Regions from separate parts of the Homo sapiens genome. Here region 1 is linked to region 2. The links come from fine-mapping of genetic effects on gene expression. A gene starts in region 2. The other region holds a variant in brackets. All regions are shown on one strand. Distances are from middle to middle.

Region 1 (16,973 bases), 65 kb after region 2:
CGAAAGGGCAAGTTATAGAAGAGAAGATATTTGGAATACATATAATGATAAAAAGACTTTTATCTAGTGTAAAAAAGACCTATAAATCAGTAACAGGAAGACAGCAACCCAGTAGAAAATGAACAAAAGTCTTGACAGGCAGTTTACAAATAGGGAACTCTAAATGGCCAATAAACATGAAAATGTGCTTATGCTTATTAACAGTCATGAGAGTGCTAATTAAAGTTCAATGAGGTACCACTAGATATCCATCAGAATAGTTGGAATTAAAGAATCTAGTGATTTCAGTGGTTGGTGAGGATGTGAAGCAAAGAGAACCCTTAAACTGCTGGTGGGAGTGTAAATTGTTGAGTTGGTTTTGAAAATTGTTGAGTATTATCCTATAAAGTTGAAAGTGAGCATTCCCTATGACACAGCCATATTAGGCTGCAATATATACCATCCAGAATGTTCTTAGTGGCATTCACTATTACACCAAATTAGAGACAGCCCAAATATCCCTCAATAGTGCAGTTGCTATGCAGTGTGTCATACAGTGACATTCTATTCATCAATGAAAATGAAGCTTTATGAACAACATGAATGAATCTTAAAAACAGAAAATGAGAGAGAAAAAGCCAGTAATACAGGATATACATATTCTATGGTTGCATTTATAAAATAGATATTAAAATGGGTTACACTAGAGCATAATTAGGTAGTAAAGCCAGAAAAGTAAGGATGTACCATAGATATGAGGATAGCAATTACCTTTCAAGGGTGGTATCAGAGGACTTCTGGTATCCTGGAAATTTTCTACTTTTTTTTTTTTTACCTGATTAGCAATTACATGAATGTTTATAACATTTCAACCAAAGCACAGATTTATGTTTTTTGTCTTTTCTATGTGTGTGTATGTTTTATAATTTTTAAGATTATGTATAACTTCTGATTTAAGGAGAGAAGGCCTATTTCATAGCTGATACTCTGTTTTTTAATTTGGATCTGTTTATTTATAATTAAGCTTCACTACCATTTTGCAGAGTGGAGTTTAATTTATAATTGGAATGGATAAATAAAACATTATCATTGGCCCCACATTAGAACTTCACTGTATTTAAAACAGATTTTATAAATTCTAGAAGTTGTATCCTTGTATATTCACAGTTAAAGTCATTATCAGTTTTCTCATTGCAATTGATTTTTTAATAATTATTTTAATCAAGTTGAAATGAGATGTTTAGTAGTAATACCTTTCCTACTTGAATTTTGTTCTTTTTTTTAGTTGACCACTCTTGAGAAATTTATTTTAGGTACAAATTGTAATAAAAGTTTTACTTCTATTTATTAACTGGTACTTTTTTCTCTTGTAAACCTTTAGAATTGTGTAATTGATTGTGCATGTGTATATTTTTTCCCTCATTTTGAGGGCTAGTAAGCTCACAACCCGATTTGAGACTTACATATAGTTCCAGTATTGCAGTATATTTACATTTATTTTTTGTCTTCGTAGTCTTGACATTTTATTCTGATTTTCTTTAGCTTGGGATACTTATTCTTTATATACCTCCCTCTCATTTCTAACTATATTTTGCAAGCAATTTAGAACCTTTTTATATTTAGGAGGAGAAGACACAAATGAACATATAAACGAATGAGTATTGGATGACATTGAGTTGTGCTTGAGACTACTGGTTCTCTATAGTTCTTGTGTATTAAATAAAGTTCAAAAGTTTAAACCAGTTATGCAGACTGTTTTTCTATTTTTAAAAGGCCCTTGCCTGTCAAATGAGAGTAAATATTTATAGTTGGCCATGGTGAAATGTTCTGAGGATGAAAAAAAAATGATTTTAATAGAACAGCATCCTTAATAGAAGATGGATACAAAAATCCATTCATATGCAGGAACTAGAAAAGAATGAAGTAATGGTAGACAGCAGTTACTTAGTTACAGCTAAATGCTTCCGTTCAGGGGAAGCACATAATTCTCTTATTGTATACTATGCTATATGTATGTTTTTGCCTTTTAAGATTTTTAACTGATTTCAATAAAGAAGTAAATGTTTGTTGTTCTTTTACTAGTTTTCAGGTAGTGGCACAATAATGATATAATGGAAAGTACAGTGGCTCAGTTTAATGTGGGCAGATTATTTCATCTCTCTGAATCACTGTCAATACTTTTTTCAGCTTTATGGGAATAGCAATATCTATCACAGAGCTTGTAGTGGATATTACATAAGATGTAATATCTATATCATACCTGTTACATAGTGGCTGGTCAACATATGTTCATTTTCTCCTCTTCCCATCACCACACTTCTCAACCTTAGAAAGTCAGCATTCCCTGAGCCAAAACAGTATTTTTTAAATTATCTATGTATTTTTTCTTTTATCAATATATGAAATACTGTCTTTTTCCTTAAAAAATGAGATTATTACCATATGATAAAAGGAAGCAATTTTTTATATTTCTTATTTTGAAAGAGCAAAATAAGTTGTTTTGTTAGTAGACTTAGAAACAGAGGGGAAATGTGGATAGTTACTTGGATGAGGGATGAGAGGTGAGGAAGACAGTAGATAGGTTACAGAAGTTAGCGGCAGTGGTATCTGGAGAAAACAAAACAAGCATCCCCCCACCTCCCATCACATTAGTTGCCCTTTTTTACACAGCTAAAATTAAATTGAGAGGGAAAAGATGACAGTGGTTGTGGGGGTAAACACCCCATGCAGAAAGCCTCTACTTTTACACAACTCTGCTTTATTGGATCGTCAATAAAATCAAACAGGAAAGACTTCAGACCTGCAAAGCTGCCAAAAATGTAGTGGTCTCTGGATTCTTGACAACTGAACTGTGAGAGTCATGTGGTATGTAAAACGTCTGGAAAGAATCGTTCTGCTGAGGGGGCAAGTGACAGGTCTGCTGGATTTCAGTAATCCAAGAAGGTGCCAGAGACAGGTTCTCAGTTTCGTTGGGATGGGTTCTGTGTGGTGCTTCTACATGGCTCTCATTAGTGGTTACCCCTGTTTATAAGGATGAATACAAGGAAATCCTGGTATTCCAGAACTGGAAAAGACTTGAGAAATTAACTCCAGCTCTTTATTTTAAGTGAGGAAACTGAGGCTCAGAGGCCTCAAGTGACTTCCCCGAAGTTGCACAGTGAGTTGTTGTTAGAACTACAGCCAACACCCGAGTCTCTGAACTCCTGAGTTAAATGCAAATATCTGTGGAAACCAATTTTTTTAATGTAGGGTGTGATTCTACTCATGTAACCTTATTCAGCTCTGGAAGTCGATATCCTAAATAAAGAAAGAGAAATAAACAACTCCTACCCTTCCTTTGTAGTTTAGCAAGAATTTGTACCTCTGACCCAAACTCCAAGGACAAGTTGCTTCAAGATGCAAAACAAGGAAGAGCATCTGAGGTCTTTAAAAAATGTTAACCATAGTAAACAAACAAACAAAAGAAACCCTACTGTACTTACTGTGTGATGGCCCCCATTTCTCTCTGGAAGGGGAAGGAGAGGAGATTCACGGGAAAGAAGAGGAGGGAAAAATGTTTTACAGTGTAAGAGGTTTCTACTTAGTAAGTGCTTCATAAATATTTACTGATAGATGAAATAGCCTTCAACAATCACTGTCTAACTCAAAAAAGCTTTTTATGTAATAAATTATACCTTAAAATAGCCACATCTTTTCTCCTCAAGGTACGTGATACCACCAATTATATGAAATGTAGTGCAGTAGGAAAATACAGTCTGTCTAAACTAACTGTAAAGAAAATCCATTGCTAAAAAGAGTCAATAACATTGTCTTTTTTGTGTAATAATGTAGTTTATATAAGTTTCTAGGATTACTATCTAATGAGGTGTTTCTCCTAATACTTCAATCCTTAAAGTGTGTATATTGATGTACAGTATTTATATATTTGTATTCCCCAAACCTTAAGGCTGCCTGGTTCTCATTGCTCATTAATGTCCCCACCAACAAGGGAACAGGAGGCATTATCAGTGATAAATCAAATCAGTTTTGCTGCTTCCTGTAAGCTACATTGATTGCCATGATTTTTTGGACAGAACAAAGATGAGGTAGAAATTACGAGCAAACATGAGGATGAGGATGCAGGCTTATGAAACTCATCCAGTTAATCTCCCGTTAGCCCATTACTTAGGTGAAACTTGGTAATCATTAATATCATGATTAAGAATTTGTCATGTGGACTTAATTAGGTGGTTAGAGAGAGTGGTAGTCTGTGTGATGTTTAAGAAATGGTGTGAGTTCAGAGTTAACTGTGTGATTTTGCCAGTTAATTAACCTCTGTAAGTCTCTGTTTGCTCTTAAAATTGGGATAAGTTGTATTATGAGTGAGATAATATATGTGTTATGTTAAGCACAGTGCCTAATACATAGTGAGGAGCTCTCAATAAATATCAGCAGATAATATTAATAATGAAAAGGCATTATTTCCGTTTTGGGTATACTCGAATATTCTTTTAAGATGCCATTTCTACTTTAAAGGGTTATACATATTCCCCTCCATTATTTTAAAAAGAGAAAATTAGTACTAGGGTTTAACTATATACAGATGAAAGACTTGAAATGGACATTTTATGTTGCTCAAATTGGATTCTGTGTTTCTGTTAAGTAGGTATTGTTTTTAAAAAGCAAAACTTCCTAAACTATTTTCTTTTGATATAAAGTCAAAAATCAAATCTTAAAGTACATTAAGGAATGTTTACTTTGTATATTATAAAAAGTCAATATGAAGTTCAAAACTTTGTAACTGAATTTTGAGGTTTTGCCTTATACCTGTATAGAGAGTGTAAAACTTCAACTAACCAGAATCTATCTGGTCTGAGTACTAATACTTTGTCTTTATTTCTGTGTGCACATTTCCTCTATTACGATTTCCTCCTGGTATTAAGCTGAAACCTGCTTCTTTGGCCTCCTACTATTGGAAGGTGTGTCTTTTCTAGTCTCAACTTCCCCTGCTTTCTCACGTTGCATCTTCAGCAGACCCCAGTTGTCCTGACTGGTCTCTGGTTTGGCTTGACCTTAAAGTCAAAAGCCAGGATTGTTGCCAAGAAGCTATTTGTATGAGATATACTTAGTTTGTCAGAGTATTGTTGGGATCACTTTTCCTTTTTATGTAAATGCAGCATTACTAAAGCTGTACAGAATAGCTCCGTGCCTTACAGACTCTCATATATTACCTGAGAATATGCTTATGAACTTTTGGCCTTTCTTGACTATTCAGTTTGTTATTAGCAACTCTTTGTGTAATGGCCTTTTAGTTTATTTGTGTTTTACTCTTAGTTCTGCCAGTTTTTCACTGTTTATTTTTTAAAATCTTGCCCCATAGTATCCAGTAATAAATAAGAAGTGGAGATATTGTGCTTTCCTTATAGGAGTGCTGTGATAACAAAACCTATAAATAAAAAATTAGGATGTTTTACTTTTAAACAAAAGGCAGGAAGAGCCCGTGTGTTAGAAAGCTGTGGTGGAAGCAAAGAACACTGACGTTTGAAAAATGAAAACTTGATTTCAAATCTGGAACTTGCAACTTGCTTGCTGTGTGATCTTGGCTAAATCTCTGTTTCTCTAACTTTAAGTTACTTTGTAAAATGGAGAAGATATTTCCTAATTTATGGATTGAGAGAATAAAATAATATATGCAAGCAATGTTTCATAAACTGAAAGTCACTAATATACACAGAATATGTCTCATCTCTGTGCTAAGGGACAGTATGAGCAAATGGTTGTCTTTGTGTAAGCATTTAAAAACAAGAGTATTTTCAAAGCGTGCTTTAATTTTAACTCTGCTGTAATAAACCTTGAATCTTTCATCTTTGTTGTTGGACTTAAACATATAATTATACTGTTAAAAATAAAAAAAGAGGAGTTGGGCCAGGCACAATGGCTCACACCTATAATCCTAGCACTTTGGGAGGCCGAAACAGGCAGATCACTTGAGCCCAGTTGTTCGAAACCAGCCTAGGCAGCATGGCAAAAAATACAAAAAATACAGAAAGTAGTCAGATGTGGTGGCATGTATCTGTGGTCCCAGCTACTAGGTTGGCTGAGGTGGGAGGACCACCTAAGCCCAGGATCCATGATCACCCCACTGTACTCCAGCCTGGGCAACAGAGTGAAACCCTGTCTCAACAACAACAACAACAAAAGAATATTTGGTCAACAATAAATAAAGTAAAAGCAATTAGGAACTCCAGGTAAAGTAAGAAATTGTAGAATGATGTCATGGTCCAATCAGAATGTACAAAAAATGTGACATGATTTTGAGCAGTTGTGAAAATTAAGAAAAGGAAATCTATTTGATCTTTATTCTAGTAACATGTTCTTTCAAATGACGGAGTTTATAAAAATGGAACTCTAAAAATAGAAATGCAATTCTAGCACATTACTTGTTTTCACAACAAGTAATATTTATATTCATAACAGAGTAAACAGATTATTTACCTTTAATTTTTAGGAACAACTTAGAAACAAAGCCTAGAAAGGGTAGTTGACAATTTCGGGAAAAAAATGGCAGTCAGAGGCTAAGATGTGGAAGGGGACTGGGAATTGGTGAGAAGGGGAGAATCACTAATAGCCTATTTTATGTTGTGGGGAGTTAAAAATTGATTGAACAGATAGAACCTGAAGTATATTGTTTAAAGTTAGCAGTGGCCAGTAAAAGAATAAAACTATAACAACTGTGAGGGAGGGGTAAGAATAATAAAGGATAATGTGAATTCTCTTTATTTCTTAATGGGAAGTCAGTAGATGTTGTTTATGGCTTATGAACTAAGAACTACAAGTATAATTATATTATTTAGAGTTTTGAATGTAAATTATCAGAAGAGTTAGAAACAAATGACTAAAGGTAGTGGCTTTTGGGTACAATGCTGAAGTGGGGCAGGTATGGAGCTAGAACCTATTCTTTTCTATTATAAGACACTCTACATACTGTTGTAATATTTTTATGGTTTACATTATTAGTTTGATACAAGCATATTTTTCTAAGTACTGATAACCAAAAGTCATAGTTGGATACTGTGGCATATTTGCCATCCCCAAATCTGGAAGATATACAGTGATTATTCAAACCTAAAGTTACCTCACCTTCACCTTCCTGCCATCCATACTCTACCGCTCTCTCTATATTCTGCTTTGACTTCTAGGTAGCATGAATTGTTTTTGCTTGCCAGCCTAGGATCAGCCTATGTCACATTATATTTTATATCATCTCATTGTTAGTTCTCTTGTTCACTGAAATGTCAATCTGGTTAATTTCTATAAAATAAAACATACTGAAGTTATAATATAGGCATATGATAGTAAGAGAAACAGTGTATCTACTGCTTAGAAAATAACTTGCATGATACCAATATTTTATATCACAATTTCGCTATTAAAATTATACAGAGGAGAATATTAATTGACTCAAACATTGGAAATTTTTTTGGAAACACCATTTTCTGTATTTTTCTATTAAGTTTACCTTAACTTTTTTATTAAATTAACTTTTTTTTTATTCAAGAGGTCATAGTAGTTTACCAGATTAGGTTGGTCATGGCCAAATTGTGACCAAATCATTACTAAAATATTCATTTTTAAGAATAGTTCAATACAGGGATTCCAATGATAATCCATATATTCTGCTTTATATATGATTGTATTTGAAATGATTACTTTCATATCATTTATCTGCTCCCTCCCTCAAATGTACATAATCAGGGGTTAGAAAGATGGCTGGCTATCAGAACAGCTTTTAAATTTTTGGTTGGAAAAGGCACATCTTTAGAATATGGTAGACTCTCTTGTTAGCTAAATATATTCATTAAGATTGAAGTGTAGGCAGATTTAGATCAACAATAGCAACTAGTAGCAATTAAGCAAATTTAATGTGCACAGAACAGATGGTGGGATTGTGGGTGGGGACTGAAGACCAAAGAGATGCTATTTTCTAACAGTAACTTTAGAAGAGACCAAAAAGCTATTTTAAGCCACAAGTTGGAAAGGGGGAAGGTGGAGATGGAGAGAGATTCCTGCCTCTAACCATATTTGATGATGAGCATTTTGGTCAGTTATTCATTCTTCCATCCATCTGTCTAGTACTTGTTTGAGTACCTATTGTAACACTCATTGGTTGGTGTTGTCGGGTTGTTAAGGGGCTAAACTTGACATTCTGTTATCCCTGACATTCTGTTATTTCCTGACATCATGCTATCCACAAGAGTGAGATTGTATCTCAAAAGGACAGTCGTCCTTTCCTTATTACTCCTACTCCATAAGCATCTAACTTCCTTGATGACTTAAACCTCAAATCACCCAGCAATGACCTTCAGGAATTCCATTTTTTAACTGATAGATTAGTTATATTTTCCATATCACATTTGTTATTTCCTAAAAGTACATTTAAATCCTTAAATGTTTTTGAATTTTTGCATTGCTCTAACTACAGCAACAAAATATACACAATGGGAAAGAGTTCAGTTAATCAAAATTTAAACCAGTTTTACCTAATAGCATTTAAATCTTTTCTAAATTTTTCCCCAAACTATAAATCAACCATTATTAGTGATTAGTTTGATCTAGGGAAAAAAAAGTTTTCTCTTTGCCATTTGGTTTTTAATAGCACAAAGAAATTATATCAATTAGAAAAATACTCAAACTATTTGGATGTTATTTTATCAAATTATATATAGTATATAGAAAGTTGAGGTCAGGGGAACAGGAGGAGTAGCTTCATTACACTAAACAAAATAGTGTTTCTTTGTGTCTGCTATGACATTTTATGAGCATTTCACCAGCATTGCTGACTTTTTCTGGGTTGTGTTTGCTGCTTCTTAACTCTGCGGTGTTGGGAATGCTGGCTCACTCTCTCCACCTTTTCCTCTTCTACTTGTGCAGCCTTGTGTATGCTGTTTTTAACACTCACATAGTGCTTACCATGAGCCAGGCACCGTTCTTCATTAGACAGGGAAAGCAGATACTTCCTTTTCCTCCCCTCTTCTACTCTGGTGTTGGAGATATCCTCA[A/G]ATGGAATAGCCATGTTTTCTCCAGAGTTCTATCTAGTTGCATCTGACCAGCTCTTTTTCCTTTCATTTCTGGCAGACCTGGTGTCTGAGGGCTCCTCATTCTTCTACAGCTGTGTGTGTCCATCAGAGCCATAGCCTCAGAGCCAGAGGGTCACGGGAAGCAGGATCTCCTGTCCACCCCCACCTCCTTTCTCCATTTGTAGTGGGCCAGCTGCCCTCCTCACCTCTACTATCTTCTGCTCTCTACCTAGGGTCTGAAGAGGCATGAATCTTCATAGGCATCTGGCCACGGATCTGCTTTGCCTGGTTAATGATGTCGATGTCAGCTTTGTCCTCAACCACATACCATCCATAGTTTGTAGACACCATTCCCTTTACTGGTGGCCAACTGAGACTTATAACTGAACATTTTACAAAATCCACAAAAAGTCCTTGATTCTCTGCTAGGTCTCTGATTATCATCTTGTCTGATTTAAAATGCTAAGCAGAATTGAATCATTGGAAGATACTGGGAAGAATCTTCCCGGTCAAGAATCAACATTCTTGACCTTCACCACCTTTTACCTCTGCCACCCAAGTTTTAAGAACAAACAGCCAGGTACAGCGGTTAATAACAATAATTTTAGTTGCTGTAGTGCAGATAGAAGACAGTATAATACAGTAATGAAGGCACCCAAATGTCGGAGTTAGACTGTTAGAGATTCAAATACCATCTCTACTTTTTGATTGTTTAGCATTGGCCAATTGACACAATTACTTTTAAGTTCCACATGTGAAAATAAACTTGATAATGGTATTTATCTCATAGGATGTTATGCAGATTCAGTGAGATAATGTATAAAGAACTTAGCACAAGGACTGATGGATTGAAAGCGCTAGGTAAACATTTCTTCTTTATGTTTGCTACCATTGAGAAGCGTTTACATGTACCAGACATGCCAGTGCATTGACTACTTTATATACACATGTCTACTTCATTAGGAGCTCCACAAATAGCTTCACCCCAGATAGGGCTGCCACCAAAGCTCTCTGAATTTTGTCATAGAGGGCAGTGGCAATTTATGGCCCCAGGGCACCTAGCTTTGCTCAGAAAATGTCCTTCATCAGCTTGCTAGTGCCAAGAGTGAGCAAGCTTTTTCTAAATCTTCCAAGAGAGATCCTGGTAAATAAAAGGGTTATTTCTCCTGTCAAAGTGCTGGGTGGTCACCACATCAACAAATAGGGATTCAGTCACTCACTTCCTCTCCAAATTGAGGTCACTGAGTAGTGAACAACAGTTTCTGGGTAACAGCCATCTACTTGGTAAGGTTCACCCATTCATTCAAAGCCACGTAACTATTCCACACAGCTTGATCCTGAAACAGAAAACAGTCAATGTGGCCAGTAAATGATGGCTTATATGGAGATAGGCCTTTCCTTTTCAGGACCATTATATGTAACTGTGCTCATGCCCTGCTTGACTCAAGCAGCTTGTTTAAAGAGCATGCCTTCTTCTATTCGTCCCATACATAAGAACTACAGGTGGCTGGGTATAGTGACTCATGCTTATAATACCAGCAGTTTGGGAGGCTGAGGCAGAAGAATCACTTGAGGCCAGGAGTTCAAGACTAGCCTGGACAGCATAATGAGACCTCATCCCTAGAAAAAAAATTTAAAAATAGCCAGATCTGGTGGTGTGCACCTGCAGTCCTACCTGCTTGGGAGGCTGAGGCAGGATTGCTTGAGCCCAGGAGTTCAAAGTTACCTATGAGCTACGATCACACCACTGCACTCCAGCCTGGGCAACAGGGGAAGATCCTGTCTCTAAACAATATTTTTTTAAAAAAAGGACTACAGGAGTCTCTTATCTGATTTGAGAGCCATGTTTCTTAACCAAAGTGGGGACTTTTTCTTCTGATAGGCTAACTCATGAGGTCACAGAATGAGACAGAGTCTTCCATGGTGATCCCTCATAGCCACCAATAGAAAACTAATTCAGTTAGAATATAAACAGTGTAAATTAGATGAAGAATCTTCTAGTATTTATTCCTTTAGCTACCTTAGCACTATTGTCATCTTGAACTGGGTAATTCTTTGTTGGAGGAGCTGTTCTGTGCATTATATAATGTTTAGCAAGATCACTGGCCTCTATCCACTAGATGGTAGTAGCAGCACCCTCCACCCACCAGAAATTGCCAAATGTCCCTGGGGGGTGAGGGGAGCTAAATCACCCTCAGTCAAAAGCCGTAATGTATAAAAATATCTTTCCATGAAAGACAGACTCTCCAGTTGTTTCTTCTAGATAGACAAGAGAGTTTGTCAGTTACGCCTATTAAATTTTACCTTCTGAAAGGACTATCTTCTGGAAGTGCCTTTTTCCTTTTCTTATAGGTTGTTAATCTGGTCTTTGATGCTGTGTTCTCATCCAGAAGACATTAGATAGTCAAAGGACAGGGAACTACCATTAGAAGACTGAGTTTTATTCCAACACTGCTATTATTAGCCTTGGCACTGAGCAAATCCTTTAACTACTCTAAGCCTTAGTTTACCTATCTGTCATCAATGTTGTGGAAAGAGAAATATGTATGTACAAAAGCATCTTTAAAAAACAAAGAAGTCACCTAGCACTCAGATCTTAGTTTCTAACGCCATTCTCCAGTATTAGAAGCCAGGGCTCCTTGGAGAAATCTCTGACTTTAGGCCTGGGGCAGGAAATATACAAGATGACCTAGAGCATCTTGTAGTGCCAGAAGTAAATAAATGCTTTTTAAAAATTACAATGATGGAGGTGTGTAAAAGGGACACAGGAATTAAAGGATAGAGCTCCCAATGGCTAATGCTGGAACAATTTGAGAACAAAATAAATAAAGTAGTATGGAATTATAACCCAGAGTATAAAATAACCATCAATGAGTCTGGTATAAATAAGTGATTAACAAGTAAATAAATGGGGAGAAGAGACTAATCTACCACACAAAATATTTCCAAAATAGTTTATGCACACATTTTACCTTCAAGAAGGTAGAGCATGAATTTTTACTCCTTAAGGGTAGCCTGTGCATTGTACTTCCTTACAAAGAGTACAGTATGGAAAGTGGGGGGGGAAGAGTAACTTTGCAGTGGGGCAACCTGACAAATACTGTCCTGGCCAAATCATCCAGGTCAACATCAACAGTGACCCTTAATAGTATATACCCTTAATATAACATGAGAGTGGCACTTTATCTCCATGGTCTTCCACCCAATAACACATAACCCAGTCTAATGAAAAAGTCAGACAAATCCCAATTGAAGGACATTCTACAAAATATCTAACTAGTACTCCATAAAACTGTCAAAGTTACCAAAAACAGGGGAGGTCTGAAACTATGTCACGGTCAAGAGTAACCTAAGGAGACATAACCAGTAAACGTAATATGGTATCCTGGATGGGATCCTGGCACAGAAAAGAGACATTAGGTAAAAATTAAGGAAATCTAAATGAAGTGAGGACTTTAGTTAATAATAATGTATTGGTATTGCTTCACTAATTGTGACAAATGTACCATAATATTGAAAGATATTGATAGGGAAATTGAGTGTGAGGTGTATGGGAACTCTGGACTATCTTTGTAATTTTTCTGTCCATCTAAAACTACTAAAATTAAAATTTTATTTTAAAAAGCATAGCTAAATAAAGGTAAGACACTATTATAAGTAATGGTTATTTTATCCAGAAGGATATTATCGAGCTCTGGTATATAATTCCCTTAGTTTTAAAAGTCTATTCATGAAGTCATTCCTCAACTTCTCTCTCTGGGTGATATTTAATGTCCTTATGGATCGTACTTCATCTCTTCTCCCACTAGCTTGGAGCAGTTTCAGGTTCCCAGCTAAAGAAACTGAAGGATATCACATAACAGTTCTTCACCTTCTTGGCATAAATCCTGTGGCAGACCATGTTTACTTTTTCTTCTGAGGAAATCCACATATGCTCCCTTCTTCTTCCCCCACCCACTCAGAAATACAGCTGCCTTACAACTTACCAGTGCTTTTTTCTAACCAAGGTCTGAAAGGTTCTCTGTTTAGTTTCTTTGTTCTCAAGAGGAATGGAAAAAAGCGGGAAGGTACTATGGTAGCACCCCACAGCACCAACTTGCCCAGTAGGAGTGAAGTACTAACTTGCCCAATAGGAGTGAAGTACCAACTTGCCCAAGAGGTACTGCACCTAGATGTGTGCAGAATAAGAAGGTGAGATAAGGGGATCCTTCAGAATGAGTCACCACATGTAAAATCTTGGAGGGACAATACATGAGCAGATAAAAAAGTTTAATATAGGTAACTACAATTAGTTACCTCTATGATACTCTTGCCTTTTTGGCTGTAGCCATTATAACTAACTGTGTAATTGGAAGTCATTCCCACCACCTTTATTTCAGTGAACAGTATTGTTTATTCATTCTGGGCATATTGCACTGTATAAAGGTATGTATTTGAACATAGTTTGTTACAGAAATTGAATTTAGAATCACTCCAGTATATAGAGTAGTGTTCTGTAATCCGTTGGTGGAGAAGAATTGACCAATCAAATTTCCCTAATGAGACCAGTGACTTATGGGACTGCCTCGGTAATGCTTTTCAGTTCTGAGAACTTCAGTGAGGTGAGCATTTGCCAGAGTCAGGTTTACTGATGATATTAAAAGTCTTGGTTAATATAAAGATAATAGGGCAAACAACATGTGCTTACTATTATTTAGGCTTGTTTGACATCCCTTCCCACCCATGAAGTCGGGAAGGTAATATGTGGCCACTTCTGACATGTGAGGTCATGGGCAAGGACATGCAGCCGAAAGAAACACAGGTGTACAGCCTAAGCCACTTGATTCTGGGCAGAGTATTTCCCCTTCTAGCCTGCACTGAAGCCTTGGCATGGTTTCATGATTATAATTATTGCCTCTACTTTTTTAAATGCTCTATTTCTGGACCAAATCATGTTTGCTTATTATTTGGATCCAAATGCCACACTGGTAGATTTATGCACCTACAGCTGATAATTTTAGGAACTGTGAAATAAAGTTAATTTACACCTGGAGGAGTGCTGACCAATAGAACTTCCTGGAGTGAAGAAATAGTCTATATCCAGGCTGTCCAGTGTGGTAGCCATTAACCACATGTGGCTACCGAGCACTTGAAATGTGGCAGGGAGTTGCAGGAACTGACTTAAATTTTACTTAATTTAACTTGAAGTAGCCACGTGTGGCCCATACCTGCTAGAGCACCAGTCTAGACAGTGTAGGAATCCTCCATGTGATGCAGGCTCCCCTACCTTAGCTCTGGGCCTTCCTTGCACACACTTGGCTATTCTTTTCGAGAAAACATTTCTGTAGTACCTTTTTTTCTTATGCTTAGCATGGTTGGAATACATAGATCAGTAGCAGAACAAAGTTCCTTCTCAATTTTGGCCCACTTAAATCTAAAGCTGTAAGTTCTTAAACTCATCACTAAAAAATAAAATTCACTGAGTTTTGTTCGCCATACTCTTTTTTAGGGGAAACGAGGAAACAATGATCCCATATGTTCTTGATTCCACCTTTAAGAGTTTCAACCTTTAGAAAATTATTATTGGCAATAGGTTTATTTCTTTAATTCTAAAAACAAAGGCTATTTTCTTTTACAGATGCAAATCTGTTAATTTGATGCCTGCAAAGTTCAGTGACACTAAGTTTAGATTGAGTGGTATTTACAGAGTCATATGAAAATCCAGTCACATGATGTTTGTTAGGTTAAGAATGGCATTCTGAGATTATAGTCTAGGAAAGGGGGAACTGCAGTGTACAGTTTCATAAATGCATTGCAGATAAACATTAAAATATTAAGACAATGACAGCTATTTTTATTATTGTTAACTTGAGCAAGTAAATTCAGAAGCTCTATGGAAAGAATCAGAAAAAGTGACAGTTCTTAATTACCTCACATTTCCTTAACTAGAAAATCTTAAGGAGTGAGGAAAGTACAAAGGCAACAAATATTACTAGGGGTAATGTAGTAATGCAAAAAGGGAGGGAGGGGCTGTCTCATAATAAACTTTTACTTTTCCAAACATGGTTTTTCACTTAATACAAGTGGTTTTTTAAATTTAATTTAATACACAAATTTTTTCCCACAGATTATGATATTAAACATTTTTATGGTAGGACACAGGAAATAGTGAAGTTATATAAAATGTCACTTAATGCAAATTTGAACAAACCAAATTACCAAGTGGTTGCTTTTCTATACTAAACAGTTTTACAGTATTGTATTAGATTCTCATTTAATGTGAGTCTTTCATTTCTGATTTAACACTTGTTTTTATTCTATTTCTTGGATTCATTTTCATGGTCATGAAACTATTATGTCAGTTCTTTATTATTACTTTACTATACATTGTTATTAAATGTGAACATATTTTCAGCTAATAGAGCCCTGCAGTCCGCCAGAAGCTCTCTTCATGCTCCCTTCTAGCCAACATCCCTTTCCTGGAGAGACACCTAACACCACAGATTAATTTTGTCTCATTTTTTATTTTATATATGTAATTATGCAGTATGTATTTTCCTGCATCTAGTGGCTCTTCCTCAACATTATGCTCCTATAATGTCTCCCTGTTACTGAATGTCACAGTAATTCATTAATTTTCATTGCTGTACAATATGCCATTATATTAATATAACTACACCACATTTTATTTATTCATCCTACCCTTGGTAGACGTGAGTTAATTTAATTGGGGACTGTTATAAATAATGCCTCATGAACATCATTTACATGTGATTTTCATGCCTATTTACATGTTACCCTTAGAGCTACACCTAGAATTAGAATTGCCACATTATAGGGTGTATTTGTGAGTTCAGTTTTAGTAGGAACTGCCAAATAATTTTTCAAAGTACTTGCACAGTGTGAGTTCCAGATACCTTATATTCTCAATATCTTCACCAGTACTTGATGTTGTCAGAAATATTTTTTGCCACTTGATATCTATAATTATTATCATAATTTACCTTTTAGAGAACACCAGTAGTTTTAGACGACAGATGCCCTGACACACACACGGTGATCATCAAATATACCTATTCCCAGCTCTCCATAGACCCGCTGAAAAAAAACCCTCGAAGGCTGTGGCCTCTGACCCAGCTCACTTTGGGCAGTATAATTTGGAATTTGGTCCTGCAGTGAAACACCTGGGTAAGGGAGAGGACGATGCACTGCTGTGAGCCTGAAGGCTTTTGGTGGGGTAAGAAACACTTCAGGAGTTAATACCACCGAGTTTGTCAAGTGCTCTCAGAGTGTGTTTGTTGAATTTTTATAATAAAGTAACTTCATAAATAGCCCTCAATTTACTCAGTTGAATACAACAAATTGCTTTTTGGTAATTACTTCATTCTCAGCCTTGAATGTAGAAATGTAAAAGGGATGAGAGGTAGTGACTGAGAAAGATTCAAAAAGATGCACTACCTAATTAGTAATCAGGGAAATGCAAGGTAAAACAATGAGATGTCCACTTTCACTTAGTATATCAGCAAAAATTAAGATCTGACAGTATGACCTGATGAGAGTGTGGGGTAAGTGTACACACATATATGCTGCTAACAATGTTAAAAACTATTGTCCCCAACAATTCTGAAAGCAAACTCAGTGTAAATATTAAGATTAGAAACGCAGATATGCAATGAGCCAGCCGTTTAACATTTATAAGCCCTAAAGAAGTACTCATATGTATACATGGACTCAGATACAATGTTGTTTACTCCAGAATTTATAATGAAAAAAATCACCAAAGTACTGTTGTATTCATATGCTGGATTGCAATGTTGTGGTTAAAAAGAATGAAGCGTTTCTAGAATGTAAGGTCTATGAGAGAAAAAACTTTGTCCATGTTTTCAACAAGTAGAACAATGAATAGTGTGTAGTAGGTGCTCAGTAATTATTTGTTATAATTACATGGCTAGATTTAAG
Region 2 (16,973 bases):
TGATAAACTAAACTTAAACTAAAAATCATAGTGCCTGTGATGTGAAAAATGCGGCTGGGCCACAAGTATGGGGAAAGCACAGGGTACAGATGTTTCTGAGATTTGGAAAACATTTGGTGTATATAAATGCAGAGCGAATCATTAAAATAGATATGCCGAAATAGGAAAATAATTGTTTCAGATTTAGATTTTTTTTTACTAATTAGAGTTATATTTCAATTTGAAAACATTGATTAATATAAATACATAGAGCTTTCCCCATGGATTTTCAGAAAATGACATCAGGAAAAAGACTGTGAGAAAAATTTATGTAAAAGATTTCCGTATATTAAATATTTCATTGATTGTAGTGTACATACATGATTATATTATGTATAAGTGGATATTGATATATTGCAAATAGAGGAATAAATAAGGAATTTTTTAATGGGTTGGAGGAATAAAATAGTGGATTTTTTAAAATGCCAACTATGTTAGATTGAGCTTTGCTTTAGAATCTGATTATAAGGGTCATGTTCACACTAAAAATAATTGTCTTAGTCTGATTGGAAATCTGTTTTACTATTAAAAAGGAGAAACAAGTCAATGGAAATGAGTGCATTGGGCGTCATCCGAGACTGGAACTCCAGTGACAGGGCGAACTTTGTCACTTGGAATGTTGTCCTAATGGGTCTCAACTTCTCAGTGCGAGAAAGAATTTGGCTTCTATTGAATGCTTGGGGGACAGCCCCTGTTTGTAGGTTGTCATCTGAAAAAATTTTCTTCATTCAAGATTAGGGTGGCACAATCCTCAAGGTAAAACGACTACTTCCTTCTATTAAGTTTTTTAAATGCCACAAACTGAAATCGTGATTGGTTGTGTCAGAATGTGGCACGTGCATCTGCCCACCAGCTGTGGAATCCTCTGCAGCATAATTTAGTATGTTTTGACAGAACTCTTTTTTAACCTGTGTTGGATGGATATGCCTAGGAATTATGTAATAACTCTTTGAATTCCTGTTTCAACTTAATGTCTTACTTGTATAGACTGTGGGCTTTTGTGTTTGTTATGGTGCATTAATGTCTGCCAATGGATGATAGTGTAGTTGAGTGTCTATCTAAAAAGAGACTAAGGTGGATTTAGTAGTTTAAATACAGCTTCTGAACTTTTCATTTGTTAAGATATTTTCATTTGTTCTGCAAAAGTAGCCAAGATAATGGTGTATATTAAGAGAAGATCAAAGTATTTTTAACCTTCTAAAATAGTGCATTTTCTTTTTAATTCAAGACTTTGTTATGCTCTTATTAAGGTGTTAAAAAGTCTGATTTTTGTGATCATGGAAACTATTGAATCCAGTGCTGTTTGTCATAGCATTTCAAATTGTGTTTGTTGCTTCAAGTAAAGCGGAAGGTTGCTTTGTCTTTTATTTTTTTCTTTACTAGCCTTTAAATTTTAAAATTTTTATTTATATTTTGAGACATTCAAAAGTATCTGTTGTATACCTGTGCATTTATTTTCAAATATTAAGTTTCCTTTTGTGAAATATTTTAAATTCCATCTTTCTTCTTAAAAAGACAATTCTATAAGTTTCATTGCTCAAAATGGTTGTTCCCAAAAGCATAATATTTAAACTTTATAACAAATATCCTTAGCTTTATTTACAGTATAAAATATATAATTAAAAAATTATGGAAAGGGAGTTTGAAGCCTACAGTCAGTTTATATTATTCTGTAGATATTTTATAGGCGGTCGTGTCAGTTGCTGTTAAATAAAATTAGTGAATATGAGGCCTAGAAGTTGCCCTCCTTTGAGAACCTTAGTGCTTTACATATATTATCTCAGTAATCTTCAAAGAGTAACCAAGAAAACTGGACAGGTAAGCAACAGATTCAAGAAGAAAGTTAACTTATTGAAGGCTATATTAGTAGCTAAAAGTAGTAGAAATAAAACTAGGAGTAACAGAAGTAGTAGTAGAAGTAATAGCAACACTTAAAGCACTTTACAGGTATTAATTCATTTAAACTTCGCAGCAGCCCTTGAGATAGCTGCTCCTTATTTTACAAATGAGGAAACTAAGGCATGGGAGGACAAGTAACTTACCTCAGGTCACACAGCTTATGCATTACAGTTAAGTCTCTGCATTTTACCGCTAAACTATATTCAAAATGTATAAGTAATTATGAGAATTGCAGTTTCATTTGCCTGCTTGGCAATTCTCATAATTACATTTGTTCATTGTTGGGGGGGAGGCCATCAGATTTTTTTGATAAGACTCGGTTTTATATCTGTTTGTGGGCTAGTTGAATTAGTTTTAAAAGTAAATGTTTAATATTTAGCTAAATAAACCAGCTACCTTCTTTATACAATTGGCAGTTATTTTTAGCTTAAAATTTTTAAACTTGATTAGTTTTGATTAGATCAAGATTTCTGGATTACATGCAGTTATTTGTGCAAAAGCAGCATCTGAGAAAAAAATTTGTACACACAAAAGTTCTGATTTTTTGCAGGTATATCTTTCAACTATATTTTCAAGTATATCCTTTCTACTACACTTATTGGATATTCTTGTTCTACTTTTTTCACAGATCACTTTGTTGTAATAATTTGGGCTAATTCAGAAGTTGGAAAGTAACACCAAAGTTAAATGCATTTTGTTAAAGAGATTATTAAGATTATAGAAAGCAACAAGCAACTTGTTAATAGAACAAAATATACAATTCAATTTACCTTTACTCTTTATGGTGTAGGGAATGAAGAACTGTGTCTTGGTGTTGGGTAGTGGGCCTTTTATGCCTGTGGGCATTTGGTATCGTTCAGCGTAAAACACTCCATGAACCAAGTTCAAGGATACTAGCAGCAAAAAGGGTATTTGTGGCAGCATATTCTCAGATGGATTCTGAAAAACAGAAAAGAATAACTTTATACAGCATTGTTATTAACCTATTTTTTTATTCTCATGTTTCACAGATGAGTTCTTTATACAGTTATCTACTTTTTTAACCTATCCTATATATTTTTAATATGTGCCATAAATAAATGAGAGATCATTTTTTAGTTATGTGAATATATGTCTTAGTTATTTTTGGAAGCTATACTCAGGTAATCAAGTGAAAATAAAATGATTTACCTAAAGGAAAAGAAACAGAAATTAGGATTGGATGTCTGTATTAAATAATCTAGGATCTTTGACATAGCCTGAAATATCTAATAGTTTCAAAATACACTGAAATTCGGATTAGGGCAAATTTTTACAATATGGTTTTATTGGGACTATCATCCACAGACTGATGCAAAAAGAACTTTTGGAGTGCATTTTAGTAGAAACCCATTTTTTAAATCACTTTAATACTTCTAATACTTGAGAAAACTCAAGTATTTAAATCTTTAAAGTTTCTTTCCAAGCAAGTTAACATGGAAGTCCACCAGTAAGCGTACGCTTACCTGCGTGCTGGGAGTTCCTGGAGATGGTGCCTTGGCAGCTTTCTGAAGCTTCCTCTGCCCAGATGAGCAGTGCAGAAGGTGCCTCTCAAGAGCTGTTCAGTGGTATTTATACTGTTTTTCCCTTACTACATGAGGTTACCCTGAGCTTAAGCTCCTCCCCTCAAAGTTGGTAAGCACTAATTATGGTGGAAAGTTCTATTGGGTAGGCACACAAGATCGGGCTGGGCTCTCCTTTTCCTTGTTTTCTTATTTAAAAATAAACCCATTGTCTTAAATATATATTAATAGTTTTAACCAAGGACCGTCTTTGTCTGTGATTCTATTTTATTAATTAATACTCTAGTGTTCAGGCTGGTTCACGGTGGAATGATGATACCCCCTTTTTATTTTTGAAAAGCACATTCTTATGTTAATTGGTTGATATTATATAATATGTGGTAGTACATAAAAGCGGATAAAATTCCTTGAAGGGGGTACTGGATTTAGACCATCATCTAAATTATTGAGTTATTACATAAAGTTATCAATGTGTCTATTAATATTCATAAATTTTTGTGAAAATAGCTGACCCCAATTCTTAATTACTTTTAGGCTTTTAGGATTTAGATCCCTTATTCACAACACTACGCTATATTCAGTAAATGACTTCAGATTTTCTTGCTTAAATTTGGGTTTACTTTAGAGTTGCAGTAGAGTTTGCAAAAACCCCTTAATTTGATAATCTCATATTATGTTAATTTACATAAGATTGCTGTGTTTATTTCAGGAGAAAAAAATTTTCAAACTTTGCTTTCAGCTTAAAAAAAATATTATTGGCTTAACTTGCAGTTAGGAATCATCCCAATTAGAAACACTTTCCCTCAAAGGTGGAAGTAAACACTATTGTTGTCAATTTTGGTAGTTAGACTCTGTTTAACAATATTAGGAAGCCTTTAAAATCAGTTTTTAGGATCCTAAAAAATCTAATAAAGGTGGGAAGTTGAGAGTCCAAATTTTTCATCTTATTTAATTTCATCGTTTTGAATCAAAATCAAATTGACTATGCAGGTGAACTGGTTGAGGAGGACAATTCCATACACAGGCATAGACACATCATTTTTCTACCTCCACAGAATTAAAGTAGTATGGATTCAGGACTAATCAATAATTGAAATAATTGAAAGTTTGACCAGTGAATGAACTAAAGATTTGTCCTTTTTCTTTTCCCTTTCTCTCCCCTTCAAGCAATTTTCTGTATTTTAAACAAAGCCTTGTATAGCCCTTTATGGAAATGTAAATGGATAAGGCATCTCATTGCCTCTCTCCTCTTGCTTGTAAGCATTTTGTTGATTGCCATATTAAAAAAATTTACATTGTTGTATATATCTCTGTATAATACTCATAGATACATATAAAATATGTTTCTTATAGCAGTTTAGAATAACAAAATAGGAAAGTTTATAATTCATCATTTGGAAATTATATATGGAATAGCTTTTGTAATTATAATATGTACTCTGCTACATCTGTAGGAGACTACAAAAGATAAGTGAGAGAAAACACCTGCCTTTTGGCTTATGGCCCATTTGGACACAATTTTGAAAAAGTAGGTGAGGTAACTTTATGGATGCTTTTGAATGCTAGGTTGAATTTGTTTTGAAAGGAATTATTAAAATATATATTTTAATATTTTGTGTGTATATATGGTGATACACATGCACACACATACTGCTATTTGCTTATAATTGAGACTGATACCCTGTTAGTTATCACTCGTGAACGTTCAGAAGACTAATTCTCAGCTCTTAATACATAGTGCTATGCCCCTGTGTATACCATTTGTTCATCTGTGGCTATTGCAACAATTTTCAGAGCCTTTCACTTTAACCTCTCTGGGTGTCTGTTTTTTATCAACACAATGAAAAGTTTGGACTAGGTGGTTTCTAAGCTCCTCCCAGTTTTAAAATTAGATTATTCCTGTGCTTGAGGTATTCTGCTGTTCTCCATGGTCAGATGGTAGACTTGGCTCCAGTTAGTACTTATTAGAGACACAAAAAAATCCATACCAGGAGGTTGTATGTCTTCTTTTAGGGATATGTAAATATATGTGGGTATTTGTCATTCTATACTCCCCTTTAGTTTTGGAAAATGTGGTGTCCTTATTGAATAAGCCTTGGACATTCAACCCTTTTTGCAAATAGTGTACTTATTTCAGCACAAGGAATCTGACTGCTGTTTGCTTTGTTAGTCACATAAGAAGCACTGTCTTGTCCAAAACAGATTGTAGAATCAGAATATTTTCTAGCCACACCCCACCCAATTGTGTATTTAAAACTATTTTTACTCTGGGTGTTTACTTGTAGCTGTTTGAAGTGACTAGTCTGTGGCTTTATGAAGGAAACCCATTCCACTCAAAACAGAGAGCCATACTCTTTAAACTCTATAACCTGAGTAATTTTTTTAAATATCAAATATGAATAATGATTTTTTTCACATCTGGCAGTTAGCTACTATTAAGCTTGCCTATTCATTTGTACATCTGTGGATCGTTAATTAATTCACCTTATGTTTCTTAAGTGCTTCTTAAGTGTTAGACATTAAGATAAATACTGGGTGAATAATATATATTCTATACCCTTAAAGTGTTTACACAGTGGTTCTCAGCCTCTTTTCCCCACTCCTGCTGTCCTGAGGGAAATGCACAATTCCTTCAGCCTTTGAGGTTCATTAAAATAGTGGTGGTTCAAAGACTATATTTTCATGAAGCTCCTCAGGTGATCATGATGGCCTCCTAAGTTAGAATGTATAGTCTGATATCAGTGTTCTATTACCACCTTGTTAATATTAGTTACATTGGTTTTTGTTATTTGTGTTCATATGCTTTTTAAACTTTTTTACAGAAAACTTGTCTTTTATAGTAGTGAGAATAGTTACAATAAATGCCTATATGCCTGTCATTCAAACTGATCTCAACTCGCTGTCACTCAATTCTCTTTTCATTCACCACTCCTTCAAATTTTGAAGTAAATCCCATATATTGTACCAATTTACCTGTGAATATTTTGGTATATTTTTCCAGAAGAGAAGGAGTCTTTTTTCTTTAAAACAATGTCATCATCGTATTAAAAAATCAGCCATTTCTTAATATCATCAAATCCTGTAGTTCACATACATATATAGACATGTATATACACAAACATATGTATACACATGTCTATATTATATAGAAACACATACATACATATCCACATATATTTTTTATTGATTGATAAATTGTTTGTTGAAATTAGGTTGATTCATATATCCCTGTTGTCATGGTTTGAATGTATCCCCCAAAGTTCATGTGTTGGAAACTTAATTCTTAATGTAACAGTTTTGGCAAGTGGGATCTTTAAGAGGTGATGAGGTTGCGAGGACTATGCCCTCATAAATGGATTAATGTTATTGTGGGAATGGGTTAGTTGTTGTGAGAGTGGGCTTTATATAGAAGCAAGCTCGGCCCCCTTTTGCTCTCTTGCACACTTTTGCCCTCTTTTGCCCTTCTGCCTTCTGCCATGCGATACTACAGCATGAACGCTCTCTCCAGATACCGGTGCCATCCTCTTGGACTTCCTAGCCTTCAGAACTGTGTGCCGAATAAAGCTCTGTTCATCATAAATTACCCCGTCTGTGGCATTCTGTTATAGTAGTGTAAAATGGACTAAACCTGTTACTCTAGGTGTCTTGTGTCACTTTTTACTCCCTTGCAGTTTATTTGTTGAAAAGCCGTGTCATCTGTCTCATGCAATTTCCTGTGATCTAGAATTTGTTGTCACTTAACTTGCTACTGTGGAGATTGGTAGTTAAATCTAGAGTTTTCATCTGATTTCAGGTTTGAGATACACACATTCACTCACACACAGATACAGCACACACAAATACATTTTTTGGCAAGAACCCTTTACAGAGAGTGGTATGATATACTTCTGTTAGGAAGCCCTTAATTGCTGGTGTCTCTTTGGTGTTACTGGACATTGGTAATTGCCTACAGTCAATATTTTATTATAGGTTATAAAATGATGATATTCTGATTTTATCATTTGTATTTTATTTATTAGCTAGGATATTCTCTATAAAGAAAAACACCCCTTCATCAACTATTTGATTACCCTGAAGTACAGTGTGTATAGAAAAAGCAGGAGAAATGCCTTTACCAGCATTTAGAACAATAAGCTGCTCCCAGCATCCTCCACAGGTGTAGTGAGGAAAGTGTGTGTGTTTATCATTATAAACATTCAGTTTATAATGTATTGTATGTGTTTCAGTCCGTGGCACTTATTAATCTTACTATTGTTCAGAATTTTTTCCCCATTTTTGGCCAGTGAGAGCCTCTCCTCTACCAGTTGGCTCCTGAGTTCTTTTGACCATGATCCCAGTAGTTTTTTTTATAGCTTCTTTCCTTCTAATGTTTTGTACCTTTCGTGGCCCAGATCTACAATAAGACATTTCTCCACAGACTCTTAGTTTCTTTTGTGGGAAATAGAAACCACAGTCTGAGTGCCTGGATGTCTGGGTCCTAGGGATGCACATTGCTTCTGGGTTGGTCATTCTATCTAGTGAACAGCTAAGAAACGTATGCACAGGGTGTTCATTAAATATAAGATATATGATAACATTTTACTGATGTAGCCAATGCACATTCAGGACCACAGGTGTTTACTTAATGACCTCAATCTTGTATCTGTAGCTGCTTGGTCCCATGCTAAAAACCCTAGTACTCATGCCAGTAATATAGTTATTCATTTGTTTATTCCATGATACTCACAATTTCTCAAAATAAAAATACCAATATTCGTACCAGAATATTGAAAAAAAATATAAGCCGTTTGATTATGTTTGCAATTCTTTTGGTATTTTCACTAGAGCTGCATTACTGTGCTGTAAAGTCACATGACACAGTTGATTCAATGTGGTAATACTGCCCACTCAATTCACTGTTAGGTTTGTTTCATTTTGCTTTCAATTTTTATGAATGCTCTTTTTAAATTTAATTTGTTTTATACTTTCATAAAGTACATATGTTTTCTCTGGTGTTCGGATATATGTTTAACAACCAACCTGAGGGTGAAGGAGATGTGTTTGCTGATCTCCGTGGTATGGTCAGTTTCCAGAAAACCCGATCACAAAATACCTGAACATTCACCAAGAGCCAATATAAGCCAGCTCCAGCAAACATTGTATATTTCTGAAGTCAAATTTATAAAACAAGGAATATTCAGAGAAGGGTAGCCTCTGTTACTGACCTATCCACCCTGTGTTTCACCTTCCTTCTGTATGTAACTATTTTTAAAACATTGTTTTGATTTATCCTTTTTATTAAAAAATGTATTATTCATTTATATCCCTCCCAACTTCTTAAGTAAATGGCATCACAGTGTACATACTTTATTTTGTAAATGACTCAGTTTTTCTTGACCTGAACTGCAGCTTTATTATAGATAACAGTTTATATTGGAGATCATTGCAGAACATTGTGTAAAGATGGTCTGCATTCCTTTTTACAGCTTCATGGTACTCCATTGTATAGATGCACCATAGTTTTTTCAACCATTGCCCTATAGGTGGACATCTGTGTTATTTCCTGTCTTTTGCCAATACAAATACTTTTTTTTAACTTTTAAATTCAGGGGTACAAGTGCAGGTGTGTTACATAGGTAAACTTGTGTCATGGGGCTTTATTGTACAGTTTATTTCATCACCCAGGTATTAACCCTAGTATCCATTAGTTATTTTTCCTAATCCTCTTCCTCCTTCTACCCTCCACCCTCTGAAAGACCCCAGTGTGTGTTGTTCCTCTCTATGTGTCCATGGTTTCTTATCATTTAGCTCCTACTTATAAGTGAGAACATGCAGTATTTGGTGTTCTGTTCCTGTATTAGTTTGCTAAGGATAATGGCCTCCAGCACCACATGTGTTTCTGCAAAGGACATTATCTTATTGTTTTTTATGGCTGCATAGTATTCCATGGGGTATATGTACCACATTTTCTTTATCCAGTCTATCATTGATGGGTATTTAGGTTGATTCCATGTCTTTAACACAAATACTTTATAGTGAATAACTTTGTGTGTGGGTGTATATGTAGCCTGAATGTCTTTGGGAGAGAGTCATAGAATGGGGATTCATGGCCTTGTTTCCCCTCAGCATCACCAACAGGATATGTTGTTTAGATTTTGTTGAACTTTTTAATTTTTGTCCACCTTAGAGGTGAAAATTGGAATCTCAGTCTAGTTGTAGTTTTCATTCTTCTTACTGAAAGCATGGTTGAGTATCTTTTCATATAGCTTAGACCATTTCTCTAGCCTACTTTTCCTGTACATGTTCTATAACTTAAACCTCTGTTCTGTGATATAGTTTTCACATATTTTTCCCAGTTTATTTGTCTTTTTAATTTGCTTATGAGTTTTTTTTTTCATGTAAAACTTTCTTTTAAGGTACATATGTCTTTATTCAGAATATTATTGTTCTTTCATAGACTCAGCTGTAAGGGGCAGGAAAGTTCATCCACATCAATCATTTTATTTTTCAGACAAGGAAACTAGTTTATTATGCACATCCCCTGGCCTAATGTTTAACTGAGTTACATTTCTGATGTGACAAGCTGTTGGCGAGAGAGCCCACTGAGGGAAAACACCAGCGACTGGGCTAATGTGTTCACCCCCTGTTCTGGCAGGATACTGACTTTCCTGTTCTTCTAATCCTTCATCCTTTTAGGGTAGAAATGGGAAAAGTGCCGAGAAGTTTAGTCAGGGCACCTTCCACCACCACCTTGCTGTACCTCATTCCTCTTGAAAAAATTTTAAAAGAACATTCTTAGGTGCCATTATAGAGCCCAGAAGCTAAAAATGATCTATTTGTGTAAATAGTCTAATGTGCTTTAGTGGTTAGATACCTGCTGAGAGTTTGAAAAGAGAAATTCATGCATAAAAACAGGTGTTTATGAAAAACCCCTGAAACGTCAGATCAGGTCAAGAAAAACTGAGAGTCATTTACAAAGTTTTAACAAGGGCTTTATATTCTGTTTTCCGTTATACACAAATTGCTACATTACTTGAAGAGCTCATAGTTTCGTGCGCCAAGTGCTTAATGACATCACCTGCTTTCCATAGTAACCCAGCTGAGTTAAAAATATAGAATGTCTTGGCCCCTTGACCTAAGATCTTCAGGGATCTTGGCTACCCAATGGGTTCTCAACCATTCACACATGTTAGTTCCTACTCTGTTTACAACTTCAGCTTTCACATGCAGTTTCTGCTAAGTTGGAAGGAGAAATTATAGCAAATTAAAGTGTTAATTAGAGAAGTCACAGGGTAACACTTTTTATTTAGATCTCTTTGTTCCTCTGTTTGCCATCGTACTTGAGAACAACTCCACAGTCACCATCTATAGTGTACAAAGTAAAGTACTTGTAGGGTACACGAGTACCTGTAGAATATTAAGTACCTATAGGGCACCTGAGTACCTGTAGGGTCTGTGTGGCAACACAGACCACCAAGAAACCCATCGTCAAAACGGATACTTATGCAGCTATTTAACTTAATCATACTAACAATGAAAATACATCCCAGTAATGCTGGGCCCTTGTCTGTTTAGCCATTGATCAAATAATTGTGTTACCTCACCCACAGACCTCTTCCCTAATAGTGCAAAGATGCTAAGTGAGTCTTCCTGCCATCCCTGGTTCCTGCCTCTTGCCCACCAGTAATGCTGACCAGATCACCTGGCCTTTTTGCACCCTGGTTTCCTCTTTGCCTGCTTTCTTTCATATTTTAAAGGTAATTGCTATTTGGGAAAAATGTAACAAATAGAAAATAAAATGTATATACTATAGAGATATAATAACCATTAATAGTGGTTTTTTTCCCCCAGTGATCTTATTAGTGCTGAAATTCTTACTATCTTTAATAACTTATGAGTCAAAAATAACTCTTGCCACTTATGATGCTAATCAGGCGGAAGTTTAGACATGCTGTCATCTTCCCCTACTTTCTCTTAATTTTATATGTTAGGATCTTTGGAAAGTGAAATGACACATAAGTGGCAAAACAGTGCTTGGGAATGCTCCACAATTGTGATTGGTGATGATGACCATACTGGTGTCAAAGAGGTAAATATCTCTGATATTAGACAGTCTTCTCAAATAATTGTCAGACTTTTTCTGACCCTCTATGTATACCAGTTGCCAGGTTGGGTTCTAGGAATCTGGAGCAGGAGCTACTTCCTGCTGTAGACTCATGGAGATAAACGCCAGACACCAAAGCCTCTTATGGCCTCTGACTTCTTTAGTGTCTGTGTGAATCTATCTTCCAAATCATGAAATGGTGTTTTCTCATACTTTATACTCTTTCCTGAACGTAATTCAAGGACTATGGGTTATTTATTATTGAAAATCCACTCTATACAAGTAGTGCCTGTTATAAGGCATAGACCTTATAAATGTCCCTGAATGAAGGAACTAAGAGCGTCAGGACATCAGATTTCCATGTTTATTGAGGTGGATGGTTTGCCTCATGCTTGTGGATGCCCAGGGATAGGGCCATTCGCATGGTGCTGGTTTGGACCTGAGTCTTTCCAAACCTTTCCTTACCTTAAAATAATAACTTGGAATTCTTGTAGAGGTCCTAGTATTAACAACTTCTTCCCAAAGTAGTTTTCACAAAAGAAAATAACCGTGGTTGCTGTTCTAGTAAGTGTGTACCTTAAATTGTTCTACTGGCTGGCTAATAAGTTAGAATTTCAGAGATTTTTCAAAGACAGTTTTTCTGAAAGTAGGCATGGTAGGAGGATATAGATGTAAGAGGGTAGGTTCAGGTTGGGCCTGAGATGGAAAGAAAAAGGAGAAGAGCCCAGAATCTTGGGAGTTTAGAGAGATTTCTTTAAATATCTCAGAAACCTGAACTATGAAGTTTCAGAGCAACAAATAACTTTTTAGACATAGCTATGCTTCACTTTCCCATTATCTTTTACTCATCTGTACCCCATTTACTTATTGATACATTGATTTATTCAACTCTTCAATGTATTAAAAATATATTATATGCCAGGAAATAAAAATGGGCTCACAGACTACTGATATCATTTATTAGTTCTTTCCCTGCTCAGCCTACCTGTTAGCATCTTCTCTTGAATGGAAATACATATATGACCCTTAAAGGGGGAAGATGTTATTATTTGGGTTGTGAGTATTAGATAAATATTTTAGAACATTCAAGTTTATAAAATGAAAATTGGAGAATTGCATCAATATCATTAAAATACGAATATTAGAGCTGAAAGAGATACTAATCCAAGTAAGTACTAGAAAATGATATTTCATTTTTTTTCTGTAGCATCCATAACCGCCCCCCCCACCTTTTTATTTAACAACTCCATGTGAGTTCTCTAGATAATATTGGTAGAGCCCTCAGTTCTGCTTGTTATTCAGCAAAGTTATGCTTGGACAAAATTAACTTTTTTCTCATTAAAATCTTAGGTAATATTCCATTTCATTACTTGATGAACAATATAACTTCTATTACCAAAAGCATTTTGCACGAGCTATATTTAATATTTACTCTAGACTCATTGGACTTTAATTCAACTAACAAACATTTTTTTTTCCTGATATATATGCTGCTGGCAGTACTCTAAACTGTGGATCAACATACCCATCCCTGGTCATAGTTTCACAAATACTCAGCTTAAAAAATTTTTTTTCTGGCTTTATTGAGTTATAAGTGATAAATTAAAAGTATATATATTTATGGTATACAATATATTTTCAGATATATATATATATATATATATATATATATATATATATACACACATACACACACATTGCTAAATGGTTACCACAATCAAGCTAATTAACATATCCATTACATTGGTGAGAACACTTAAATACCTACTCTTTTAGCGTATTTTAAGTATATGATACAGTATCTCGAACTATAGTCACCATGCTGTACATTAGATTTCATGAACTTATTCATCCTACGTAACTGAAACTTTGTGCCACTTGAAAAACATCTCCCTGTGACCCTCCACTCTGCAGCCCTTGGCAGCCACCATTCTACTCCCTGCTTCTATGAATTTTGACTTTTTTAGGTTACACGTATGAGTGAGATCATGCAGTATTTGTCCTTCTGTGTCTGGTGTATTTCACTTAGCATATTGTGTTCTAGGTTCATCCATGTTGTCAAAAATAGCAGGATTTTCTTCTTTTTTAAGGCTGAATAATATTACATGTTGGTGTGTATGTATGTAATATGCACACTTTTTTTTTTAAAGGACAAGGGGGCTGACACCTGTCATTTCCCAGGCACTGTGTTACATGCTTTATAATCATGATTCTTCTAATTCTAAAAACCATTCTTAGGTAGATGGTTATAGCTATTTTTTTTAAGTTTTGTGGGGTTTTTTTTAAAAGAAGAAAATGAAGCTTATTAAGTGGAATGACTCATCCAAGGTCATTTAGCTGGTAGGCGGCAGAACTGGGGTTTGAACCCAAGTTTTTCTTCCACACCACATAACACTTACTATAAATTGCTGTTATTATTTGAGTCAAATTTCATTTGTGAAATCTCAGATGTGACTTACTGTTCTGATATGGCAGTATCTATCTTTCATATTAATAAACAGATAAAAATCCATATGCTGTTATCATGAGTTTGGAAAACAAAGTGTTATCACAGATAACAATAAGCTATTCTTGGCCTTAGTTCCAACGGTTTGGAATCTGTTACTCAGAACAAGAAGCCCTCAGATTCAGATACGAAACAGAATATTTAGTCACAAATGCAAAAATCTGAAACCCCAATTTTGAGCCATTTCTGTACAAGAAGAATCCAGCCTGTGTTTGTCGTGATGGATAGTATATAAACTAAGAAGACCTGAAGAGGTCATAGTGTTGACAAAATTCAACCCGATGGTGGAATACACACAAACACAGGAAACAAAGCTGGGCCTTTCCACACCACTGTTAAGTCCTTGCAGTGACTTCATTTTAAGTCACCGTCTCTTCATGCCACACATATTCACCAGTGTTTGCTTGATGAAATACCACAAATCGGTGGGGTCTCCTTTTCTGCAGTCTTGCGTAGATGTGGCTGCCACCCCAAAACCCAAAGGGATGTCTGCCACCACCACTTCCTGGCCAGGAGAAGTATTTTTCATGATTTGACTCAGACCAGATTTCAACATATCGTCTCCATATAGAAAGGACTGCTGTGCTCCAGGTTTTATCCACACTTTATACTTGGCATAGGGTGCAGGGTAATCCAGAGCTGTGATGTTCAACTGAAACTTGTAGGTTTTGGTGAATTTTCTGAAGCAGGTCACAGGGAAATCAGATATCAGTGCCAGCTTCAGAATCTTCTCACTCACGTAGTACACCTGGCCTTTGTGCAGCCGAGAACAGTAGGTGCCATTGAGCCTCTCAGCTGGCAGCTAGAGATTCTCCCTAATGTATTTCACAGTCTCCTCAAACATTACATGGGTCTCCTCTTTAGTCAAAGGCTGCGTTTTCCCACTGGGTTGGAACACTGGATCCCCGTGCCTCAGTAGTGGGAAACAAAAGTCCCACATTTTCTTTATCCCTTCAGCCATCAACAGACACTTAGACAAATGCTATTATTTACTGAACCAAGATATCTTTTATAAAATGCATGTGTGCAATACGTACCTGTTTATATGGAAAACCAGTTATCTTTTAGAGTTGTGAGAATCTATTAGAAAATGCCCAGCTTGGCCGGACGCACTGGCTTATGCCTGTAATCCCAGCATTTTGGGAGGCCGAGGCAGACGAATCACAAGGTCAAGAGTTCGAGACCAGCCTGACCAACATGGTGAAACCCCATCTCTACCAAAAATACAAAATTAGCCAGGCGTGGTGGTGTGTGTCTGTAATCCAAGCTACACAGGAGGCTTGGCAGGAGAATCGCTTGAACTTGGGAGGCAGAGGTTGCAGTGAGCCAAGATCACACCACTGCACTCCCGCCTGGGTGACAGAGTGAGACTCTGCTCAAAAAAAAAGAAAAGAAAGAAAATGTCCAGCTCAATAGCTGACATTTTAAGATCTTATGTGCTAGATCTAATTCTAACAACTTTGCATATATTATTTCATTTACTTGTCATAGCAGCCCCGTGAAGTAGGTACTATTATTATTCTCATCTTTAGAGATAAAGAATTTGAGGCCTAGAGGTTAAGCATCCTAGCCAAGATCACCATGGTAAAGCGACTGTTTTCTGTGGATATATTTCTTTAGGATTTATGAGAAACAGTATAATTCCAAGAATAGCACTACTTAACTAGGAACTACTGTGTTGGCTATTCCTTGTTAAGATTTGTGTGAAAGTGTAATCCCACTACGTCTGCTTTCCAAACCATCTCAAATTGGTGAACACTGTTTTTAATTCTTTACAATTGAAAGAGCTATGTTGTTTCAGTTCTAAAATGGGCTAGTTCAGAATTTGCTAATTAAAAACGAAGCTAATTGAAAAGCAAATAGTGCGAATGTCGATATATTTGTTTTTATTTCGAAGAAGTGTCAAACATGCTTATTTTTTAGGACATCATGGCTTGTTATAATGATTAAAAGGCAGAATAGTATGACTAAAAACTTCTCAATATTTTGGGAGACTTTTGAATTATTACTAATATATGAATCCTTACTAATGGGGTACATGTAGAACTTCATTTTGTAGTATTTATATTTGTATAGAATTGTATATTTAGCATGAGTTAAATATGGCAGGGGAATGCTCTTGATTACAACTATGATATTGAGAGAGTAAGAATAGATAGTGAATATTTTTTCAGTCTTGCTTTTGGTTTGATTTCCCCATAAATCTTGATTTCTCACATTGGTAAGTGTTAGTTTATAATTGCATTATTAGTTTTGTGACCAGTAGGATTTGTATAATTGCAGCAGAGTAGAACTTTTTCAGATTAATTTAGTAAATGATATTTTGATCATACATGATTTAGAAAATGACTGATAAAATAGTGCAACTACAAAAAAAGATGTATTCTTATGATTTATAGCACAACTATTAAAAATACAGAAAAAAGGATAAAGAGTTATTTGGCAAAAATTCTAGTAGAAGAATATTGGGGGAAAATGTTAAGAGTTTTGGAGCCCATGGGAAGTAACTGACCTTATCAAAGTGTGGATTTTTTGGGGGAAAGAAGTCTCTCAGTCTACTAGTAACAATTTGTGGGTAATTAACTTAAAGAATAAATTCTGTGTTATTTGGTACAAATGATGATTAAACTCTTGTGTAGAATTTGGATAATACAATTATTATATTTTGAATAATACAGTCTAAAGCTGACTCCAAAGCAATATTGAGAACAATTGTATTTGAAATCCACCTATTTGTATACTTTTTTTAACTTTCAGTGTCGATACCACAAAATTCTTGTACATTTTAATACACATTGTATACTACAGTGTAATGATATTGAACTGCATTTAAAATGCATTTTACTTGCAGTGTTAATAAGTGTATTGGAATATTAAAAAACATTTTATAAGACAGTAAAGAGCC

The links. PIP is the estimated chance that this variant, and not a neighbour inherited with it, causes the effect. A credible set is the group of variants that fine-mapping cannot tell apart.
Region 1: its variant is the best candidate, but not a certain one, in a credible set for the expression of COL10A1 in blood mononuclear cells (TOPMed, PIP 0.74).

The regions. Positions count from the first base shown.
Region 1 is chr6:116,187,908-116,204,880 of GRCh38, forward strand. All of the region lies in intron 6 of NT5DC1 (5'-nucleotidase domain containing 1), which reads left to right. It also overlaps a transcript of COL10A1 not described here. Among named protein-coding and RNA genes, the nearest start is that of TSPYL4, 58 kb to the right of the region's middle. The variant A/G (reference allele first, on the strand shown) is at 9,018.
Region 2 is chr6:116,122,631-116,139,603 of GRCh38, forward strand. It overlaps COL10A1 (collagen type X alpha 1 chain), which reads right to left and starts at 3,502. Exons shown (of 3, transcript NM_000493.4): 1 at 3,423-3,502; 2 at 2,709-2,877. The coding sequence starts at 2,862. All of the region lies in intron 6 of NT5DC1 (5'-nucleotidase domain containing 1), which reads left to right. It also overlaps the pseudogene NIP7P3. RefSeq lists an enhancer at 2,077-2,246 and a silencer at 5,536-5,830.